2 linked regions of the Homo sapiens genome follow. The protein of the gene in region 1 interacts with the protein of each later gene in a pairwise test. Each region holds a gene or a part of one and is shown on either strand. Other genes may lie near its edges. The genes, in order: TMEM130 and GRM2.

Evidence for each region.
Region 2: the proteins of TMEM130 (region 1) and GRM2 interact in binary tests that used the Homo sapiens proteins (3 or more experiments, as listed by UniProt).

The regions. Positions count from the first base shown.
Region 1 is NC_000007.14:98,867,203-98,871,551, forward strand, and holds the start of TMEM130 (transmembrane protein 130 isoform b precursor), read right to left. Parts: upstream 2,813-4,349; 5' UTR 2,660-2,812; coding exon 2,575-2,659; intron 1-2,574.
Region 2 is NC_000003.12:51,713,490-51,717,293, forward strand, and holds part of GRM2 (metabotropic glutamate receptor 2 isoform a precursor), read left to right. Parts: intron 1-474; coding exon of another isoform or gene 475-494; exon of another isoform or gene 495-535; coding exon of another isoform or gene 536-632; exon of another isoform or gene 633-1,572; coding exon 1,573-2,648; intron 2,649-3,804. UniProt on the Homo sapiens protein: Dimeric G protein-coupled receptor which is activated by the excitatory neurotransmitter L-glutamate. Plays critical roles in modulating synaptic transmission and neuronal excitability.

The sequences.
Region 1 (4,349 bases):
CCCAAAGAGGGAAATCCAGAAGCTGTGATGGGAGCTTTTCCACGCAAACAGAGTGGGTATATGATATTGAGGGACCTGAAGCCCGCATGGGTCACTGCTGCTGCCTGAGGCCACCCAACCAGTCTGTACTACCCTGGTTGGGCTTTGCTCTCCCTCCCCACTTTGGCTGGGAGGCAGCATTTGGCCAGGCTGTGGACAGAGAGGTGCATGGATGAGAGACCACCTCCTCCCTTATCCCCCTAACTCCTGGCACCCCTCTCCTCCCCATCCCCTCCCTGCCACCCCAGCTGAGAAGCGTGGGCCTGAGCGAGGCTGGCAGGTAGCAGGGACATTCGGCTGCATGCTAATGGCCAAACAGCATCTGCAGTGAGACAGACGCATGTTATCACGCAGATCGGTTGCCAGGGGAATGGATCAGGAGGGCAGCCAGCTGGGACTGGGAGGGGGGATGGGGGGCAGGGAGGGGCTGTGTCTGCTGCAGACATTGCTGCAGACACTGGCCCAGCTCATGGGAGCCCGCCGACTCCCCCACCACCACCTGCCAGCTCCAAGGACACTTTTTCTCAGTCTGTTTTTTCAAAATCAGGTGTGTCACAGCCCCTGGGTGATGCTGCCCCTGTTCCTCAGGGGTCTCAGGGATGGCCAGGACATCCAGGGTGGAAATGGACCAGGAAGCCTTTGCCAAATGTGGCTGAAGGAACCAATCACAGGGCCTGGTGCTCTACCCACCAAATTCATCTTTCCAGGCCGGCGTGGTGGCTCACACCTGTAATCCCAGCACTTTGGGAGGCTGAGACAGGTGGATCACCTGAGGCCAGAGGTTCGAGACCAGCCTGGCCAACATGGCGAAGCCCTATCTCTACTAAAAATACAAAAATTAGCCAGGTGTGGTGGCAGGCGCCTGTAATCCCAGCTACTTGGGAGGCTGAGGCAGGAGAATTTCTTGAACCCAGAAGGTGGAGGTTGCAGTGAGCCAAGATTGTGCCACTGCACTCCAGCCTGGGTGACAGAGCAAGACTGCATCTCAAACAAACAAATTCATCTTTCCATGTTTGGGAGTCCATGTGACATGGAGTTGGGGTATGGAGCAGCCAAGGCAGAGGTTTAGGGGACTCCAAGGGCCCCCCAAGTCACCCAGAGCTCAAGGGGCAAAAGCAAAAAGAGATGGGGCACTCACCCCAAAGCTTGGCCCATGGAAGAAACACCTACCTTTTCCAGCAACACAGCATGTGCAGCCCTGAACATTCTAGAAAATGGCTACACCAGTCCTTTCACACAGAATATGCAGACTACCCAAAACACTTCCAAAGAGTACCTCTAAAGTCTGGATAACACAACCCAGAATTAATTAATAGTCCAGTACATGGACTTCTGACTTACAAATCCCTGATTCATGGACTCCAGAAAGGGGAAGGGTAGAAAAGTCTCCCCGACGGGTGAGGGAGAAGATGTTTCCCAACTCCACTCTTAGCCACTGTGATTTTGACCACATCAAGGGTGCAATTGGCTAGAATGGGAACCACACATGATTTCCAAATAATTAATTCACTTTTGTTATTATTTTCTTTTTCTTTTGCAATTTAGGACACATTGAAAATCTCTGACACAAATCAACCTGATGGACAAGAGACCCCTTTCCTGTATTTCCAGGAGGAAATAGGTAATCTTGTCCAAGTGCAATTCCCATAAAATTCGTCTAATTCATCCCTGAGTTGCAGGTTTTCTTTGACCTCATGGTTTTTCTTTCACAAATTTTCATTAGATCCCTTGCTCTCTCTCTCCACCGCTCTTTTATGAGGGGGGAGGGGGTGAAAAGTGGTGGATAGTATTCAACCTTCTTAGCTGCCCACGTCCCATCTGTCCCTCGAATAGTCTTAAATCTGGGTCCTTTTATGGTTCCCAAAATGTGGCAGAGAGGTGGGTGCTGGCTTTCTGGCGGTGGGGAAGTGGGGGCAGTAGACACACAACCCTGCTTCCCCCACTCCCCCACCCACACACACACCCCAGGAACCTGTCAGCTCCGGGTCCATTTTGGAAATCACCACCAGAGAGGAAATGGCAGCCTGGCCTCCTGGGCTCTAAATTCGCATCTCCCCAAAGCCAGCACCAACACGGTGGGAAACCCCTCTAGATGAGGCGACATTTTAAGGCAAAAACGTTGCCCATCCCGTGCTCCCTGGGGGACTGGGGAATTGTGGCGCGATGACGGACCCTGGCGCATCCCCGCCTCCCTGCCTCGTCCTCCCCTCCCTTAGCGGGTGCATGGTCCCCAGGCATCGACGGATGCGCCGGCCACCCCCGCGCGGTTTCCAGGGCAGGGCCAGCCTGGGGGGGTGGAAGCAGGAATCCAGGGGGTGCGGGGAGCCCCCTCCAGTGCCCAGGCGACTTTGGGGAACAAGGATGAAAGGAGAGGGGAAAGGGCGCTGCAGTGGCCTCAGCCGAGGAGGGAGATGCGCGCAGGGCGCACGGTGCCACCTCCGCAATCCCTGCTCCCGGGCCCACTCGCCCGCTGAGACGGTTCCAGGCCCCGGGCGGGCTGCGGCTGCAGGGAGGCCGGATTGCCCAGCGCCTTACCTGCGGCCACCCCTGCCGGGGCCCAGGGCAGGAGGCAGGCAAGCCAGAGGATGCGGCCGAGGCGCGACCACACTGCCTGGGCCATTGCGGGGCCCGGAGCGGGAGAAGCGTGGGGCGGACGCGGAGGGAATGCAGCTGGAGCTCGAGAACTGCGGCGGTCGCTCCTCCGGGCGCGCAGCGCGGGCGGTGCGGGGAGGTGCGGGCGCCGTGCTCGCTCGTCCTCGCCGGGGGACGCTCTGTCGCTGCGCGCCGCCGCCGCCGCCCACAGCCCGCTGCGCGACCCCGGCCCACGTCAGCCGCGCCGCGCGCCCTCCTCCTCCTCCCGCCGCCCCTTGCTCCCGCGTCCCTCTCCACGGCCGCGTCCTCCCTCTCCGGGTCTCTTCCCACGGCCGCGCCCCCTGCCCTCCTGGAGTCCACGATCGCCCCTCCCAGCTTGCTTCCCCTCTAGGGGTTCCAGAGCTCCCTTCCTGCGCCCTGGCTCCTCCCCGCATCCCTCCCCACCCCAAATCCACCCCCGGCCGCATCCTTCCCCTCCACTACCCGAAACCACGCCCCCCGCACCCGCATTTTTCCCTTCCCCCGAGCCCCTCCCCGCCCTGGATCCGATGCCGCCGGCTCTGACTCAGCGTCCCCAGGGGCGTGCGCTGCGCTGCAAGCCGCCTGCAGGTCCCTTGGGGCTCTCCTCCAGGTGCCTTCTCTCTGCACGCTCGTGGCTCCGAGATGCTACTCCTCATTCAAGAACTGTTGAGAGCTTAAGGTGCGCCAGGCGTTGGGCGAAAGGCCTCGAAATTCCTCTTGCTGCTGCTGCTGCTGCTGCTTCCTCTTTTCTTTTTTTTTTTTTTTTAATCTTGAGACAGAGTCTCGCTCTGTCCCAGAATGGCGCGATCTCGGCTCACTGCAACCTCCGCCTCCCGGGTTCAAGCGATTCTCCTGCCTCAGCCTCCCTAGTAAGATGGGATTACAGGTGCCCGCCACCAGGCCTGGCTAATTTTTGTATTTTTAGTAGAGACGGGGTTTCACCATGTTGGCCAGGTTGGTCTCAAACTCCTGGCCTCAAGTGATCCTCTCGCCTCAGCCTCCCAAAATGTTGGGATTACAGGTGTAAGCCACTGTGCCCAGCCTCTTGCCCCTTCTTGATAGAGGGGCCTGAGCACCCGGCCCCTGCCGTGGGCTTGATGTCATCCCCCGGTTTACCCTCTCACAGCTGCTGTTAAGATGGGGCTCCTGCTCGTATCTGGGCCCAGGGCAACTTCTTTGTCACTGAGGGCCTTGTGGGAGTCAGGCTACTGCGGTGAGGGGTGACCAGCCTACACAGTTACTGCCATTTGCCTTAGAGGAGCAGGGCTGGGCTCTCCTAGAAGCTGGAGGGGCCTGGCTGGCCTTAAACGCTGGAAGCCCGGTGGGTTCTGGTCCCAGCTATGCTTCCGCTTTGCTACGGCTACCTGGGCGAGGGATCCTCCCACACAGTGAGGGCCTTTGACCTCCTCTCTGGCCCGTGGAGCACGGATGGACCATCACTGCACCACCCAGTGCATTGACATCAAGGCGTCTAAAGCAGGGGTCTCCAAGCCCCTGGCCGCCAGTACCAGTCCATAGCCTGTTAGGAACTGGCTGCACAGCAGGAGGTGAGCAGGGCCTGTGAGCCACGCTGAGCTCCACCTCCTGGCAGATCAGCAGGGCATTAGATTCTCATAGGAGCGCAAACCCTACTGTGAACTGCTCACGTGAGGGATCAAGGTTGCGTGCTCCTTATGAGAATCTAATGCCTGATGTTC
Region 2 (3,804 bases), on another chromosome or scaffold:
CTGAGGTTCCACTTTCTTCCAGAGAGTAGACCTCTGGCCTGGTCCCGCCATTTTGAGGGTCTCTGGCTCCTCCTTGGGCCTTGCCCACTGTCTTCTGTCTCCTTATCTTGCCAAAGGTGGAGACCAGGAGACCTCAAGCCCATTCTCAGGCAGCACCAAGAGTTAGAATCAGTCTGGCTTGAGGGTGAGCATCAGGATGACGCTCTATATTCACGGAAAATGTCTTTCTGTCTTTCTTTTTTCTTTTCTTTCTTTTTTCTTTCTTTCTTTCTTTCTTTCTTTTCTTAGATGGGGTCTCACTATATTTTGTAGGCTGGAGTGCAGTGGTTATTCACAGGCACAATACAGCCTCCAACTCCTGGGCTCAAGCGATCCTTCTGCCTCAGTCTCCAGAGTAGCTAGGATGACAGGCATGTGGCACTGCTCCTAGCTTCAGGGAAAATTTCTATTCCTAATCTTGATTTTCCACTCAAGGTGACCTGAAAGTCTCCTGAAATCAAAAGTTATTTTAATAAGAGTGCCAGCTTTAAGAGAAATGACTGCTGCAGATCATCACTATGCTTCAGGAAGAATCACCGTGGGAACAGTGGGAGACAAAGCTTGGAAGCCCTGGCCCAGGGTTAAGATGAAGAGTACTTCCAATAGAACTGACATTCAGAGTTAGCTACAATCAGTGTAGGGGTTAGGGTTGGAATCTGGGGTCCGATTTGGTTGATGTTAGAGCAAGGCTAAATTCAGCATGTTTGGCTTGGGTGGAATTTATGGTAGGGCTAGAGTTGGATTTTGAGAACTTTTAGGCTGAGTAGAAAGAGTAGGTGCTTGAGGGGACCTGGGTTTGAATCTAGGCTGCACTATTCACTCATGGGGCCTTAAGCATGTCTTCTGCTTTCTTGAACCCTGATTTCTCACTGGGGCCAGGGATGGCTGTAAATCCTGGCTAGAGCCTGGCTGGGAGATGTGAGGTTTACAGGGGATGAAGTGGGGGTGGAGAGAGGAAGTGATTTTCCAGCCACTGACCACATTCTGGTGAATGGCAGTGGTTGCAGGTGACCAGTGAGGTTGGGATTCAGTTTGCACCAGGATGACTGTTAGGACTAGGGGTGCTGGAGCTGGGGTTGTTGTTAGGATTAGTGGGGACAGGATTGGAGCTGAGACTGGGTTTAGCCTTAGCATTGAGTTTGGGGAGAGGGCTGTAGTGTATGTTTCGATGAAGTTGGGATTTGGAGCCTGGGTTGGAAAGTGTTGGATAGTACTAAAGTTGAATTTGGGGAGTCATGGTTGGGGATTGATGTGGGCATTAGGTTTTTGGAGATGTCTGGGCTTTAAGGCTGGGATTACATTTGGCATTTAGGGTTGGGGTTTGATGTTGGAGTTTAGGAGTAAGACTTTGTTGTCATCTCTCATTTAGAAAAATGATTGGGGTCAAGGCAGGATTTAGTATTGGGTTAAGGATTGGAAGGGCTAATGGTGGTCTTAGCTCTGGCATTTGGGTTCCATGTTAGGGTGAATGTTGAGGTCACATCAGGGTAACACACTAGTCCAACCTTCTCTTCCTTCCCTCCCCCATCCTAGCCCCCTTTCGCCCAGCTGACACCCACAATGAGGTCCGCTTTGACCGCTTTGGTGATGGTATTGGCCGCTACAACATCTTCACCTATCTGCGTGCAGGCAGTGGGCGCTATCGCTACCAGAAGGTGGGCTACTGGGCAGAAGGCTTGACTCTGGACACCAGCCTCATCCCATGGGCCTCACCCTCAGCCGGCCCCCTGCCCGCCTCTCGCTGCAGTGAGCCCTGCCTCCAGAATGAGGTGAAGAGTGTGCAGCCGGGCGAAGTCTGCTGCTGGCTCTGCATTCCGTGCCAGCCCTATGAGTACCGATTGGACGAATTCACTTGCGCTGATTGTGGCCTGGGCTACTGGCCCAATGCCAGCCTGACTGGCTGCTTCGAACTGCCCCAGGAGTACATCCGCTGGGGCGATGCCTGGGCTGTGGGACCTGTCACCATCGCCTGCCTCGGTGCCCTGGCCACCCTCTTTGTGCTGGGTGTCTTTGTGCGGCACAATGCCACACCAGTGGTCAAGGCCTCAGGTCGGGAGCTCTGCTACATCCTGCTGGGTGGTGTCTTCCTCTGCTACTGCATGACCTTCATCTTCATTGCCAAGCCATCCACGGCAGTGTGTACCTTACGGCGTCTTGGTTTGGGCACTGCCTTCTCTGTCTGCTACTCAGCCCTGCTCACCAAGACCAACCGCATTGCACGCATCTTCGGTGGGGCCCGGGAGGGTGCCCAGCGGCCACGCTTCATCAGTCCTGCCTCACAGGTGGCCATCTGCCTGGCACTTATCTCGGGCCAGCTGCTCATCGTGGTCGCCTGGCTGGTGGTGGAGGCACCGGGCACAGGCAAGGAGACAGCCCCCGAACGGCGGGAGGTGGTGACACTGCGCTGCAACCACCGCGATGCAAGTATGTTGGGCTCGCTGGCCTACAATGTGCTCCTCATCGCGCTCTGCACGCTTTATGCCTTCAAGACTCGCAAGTGCCCCGAAAACTTCAACGAGGCCAAGTTCATTGGCTTCACCATGTACACCACCTGCATCATCTGGCTGGCATTCCTGCCCATCTTCTATGTCACCTCCAGTGACTACCGGGTGAGCTACCTGCCACAGAGGTCGGGGGAGATGGGACACCAGACCCTCTGTTTCCTGGTATCTTATTTAATCTACTGGTAGCTCTGGGGTTCCAAGAGGATAATGCCCACTCAGGGGACCACAGCTTGTGTGGATCCCAAGGGGAAGGTGGGAGGGCTGAATAGGACCTAGGGAAATGGCCAGGGAGGTGGGGAACTCGAGTTAGAGAGAGCTGAGATTTCAGGACTTGAATGTCATCCCCTATCCTGGAAGGTGATGGGGGTGCAGAAATATGTTCAAATGGACAGGGTTCTGCCCTGCTCCACTGAGGGGTCATCTGCAGAAGGGGTTGAGAGATGAAGCCAGGGAAGGCAGGAAAGATGAAGCAAGGTGGGTAGGGGAGGAGATCCAGGGTATAGAGTTGAGAAAAGCTAAAGCAGGTGAAAATTGTTCCCCAGTTGGTGGCTTCTGAGCAAATTTGGTTCCAACTGGCACTGTGTCTCAATGGGTCTCCCCAGCTCCAAGGGGCAATGGCTGCTTCAGATAGGGTGGTCAGGGAAGCCCTCTCTGAGGAGGTGACAGATGAGCTATGTTCTGAGTAAGAAGATTATCTTGGTTAATCTTCATAACTTGAGTAAGCTCCATGGCTCTCCCGTTTTACAGATGAAGAAACAGAGACTCAGGGAGGTTCAATCCCTTGCCCAAGGTCACTCAGCTTGGGAGTGCAGAGCAGGGTCTGAACTGCAGAAAAATTGAGGCGAAAGCCCCGGCAAAGGCCCCTTCCCCAGGACAGAGGTGTGGTGGCACAGTGCTGGGGGCCAGGGACCGCTGGGCTTGGCTGCTCTGCTTGCACCTGCTGGGCCACCTGCTTGGGTGGTAGAGGCCAGGGCTGGGGAGGGATTCTGCTCTGACTCAGCCTGCATTTGCATATGATTTGCATTTGCATGCCAATCACAGGCAGCTAAGGACTCACCTGAGACACACACCGTACCCACACATGCATGCACACACACACACACACTTGTACACACAGACATAGCCACATGCATGCATGCACACACACATATCCCACATACACACACTCGCTGGCACACACACATATATCTTCCTGACAAATGAATCCATACCCATGCACCCTACACTCACGCACACATACACTCACGCAGACACCTGCAGA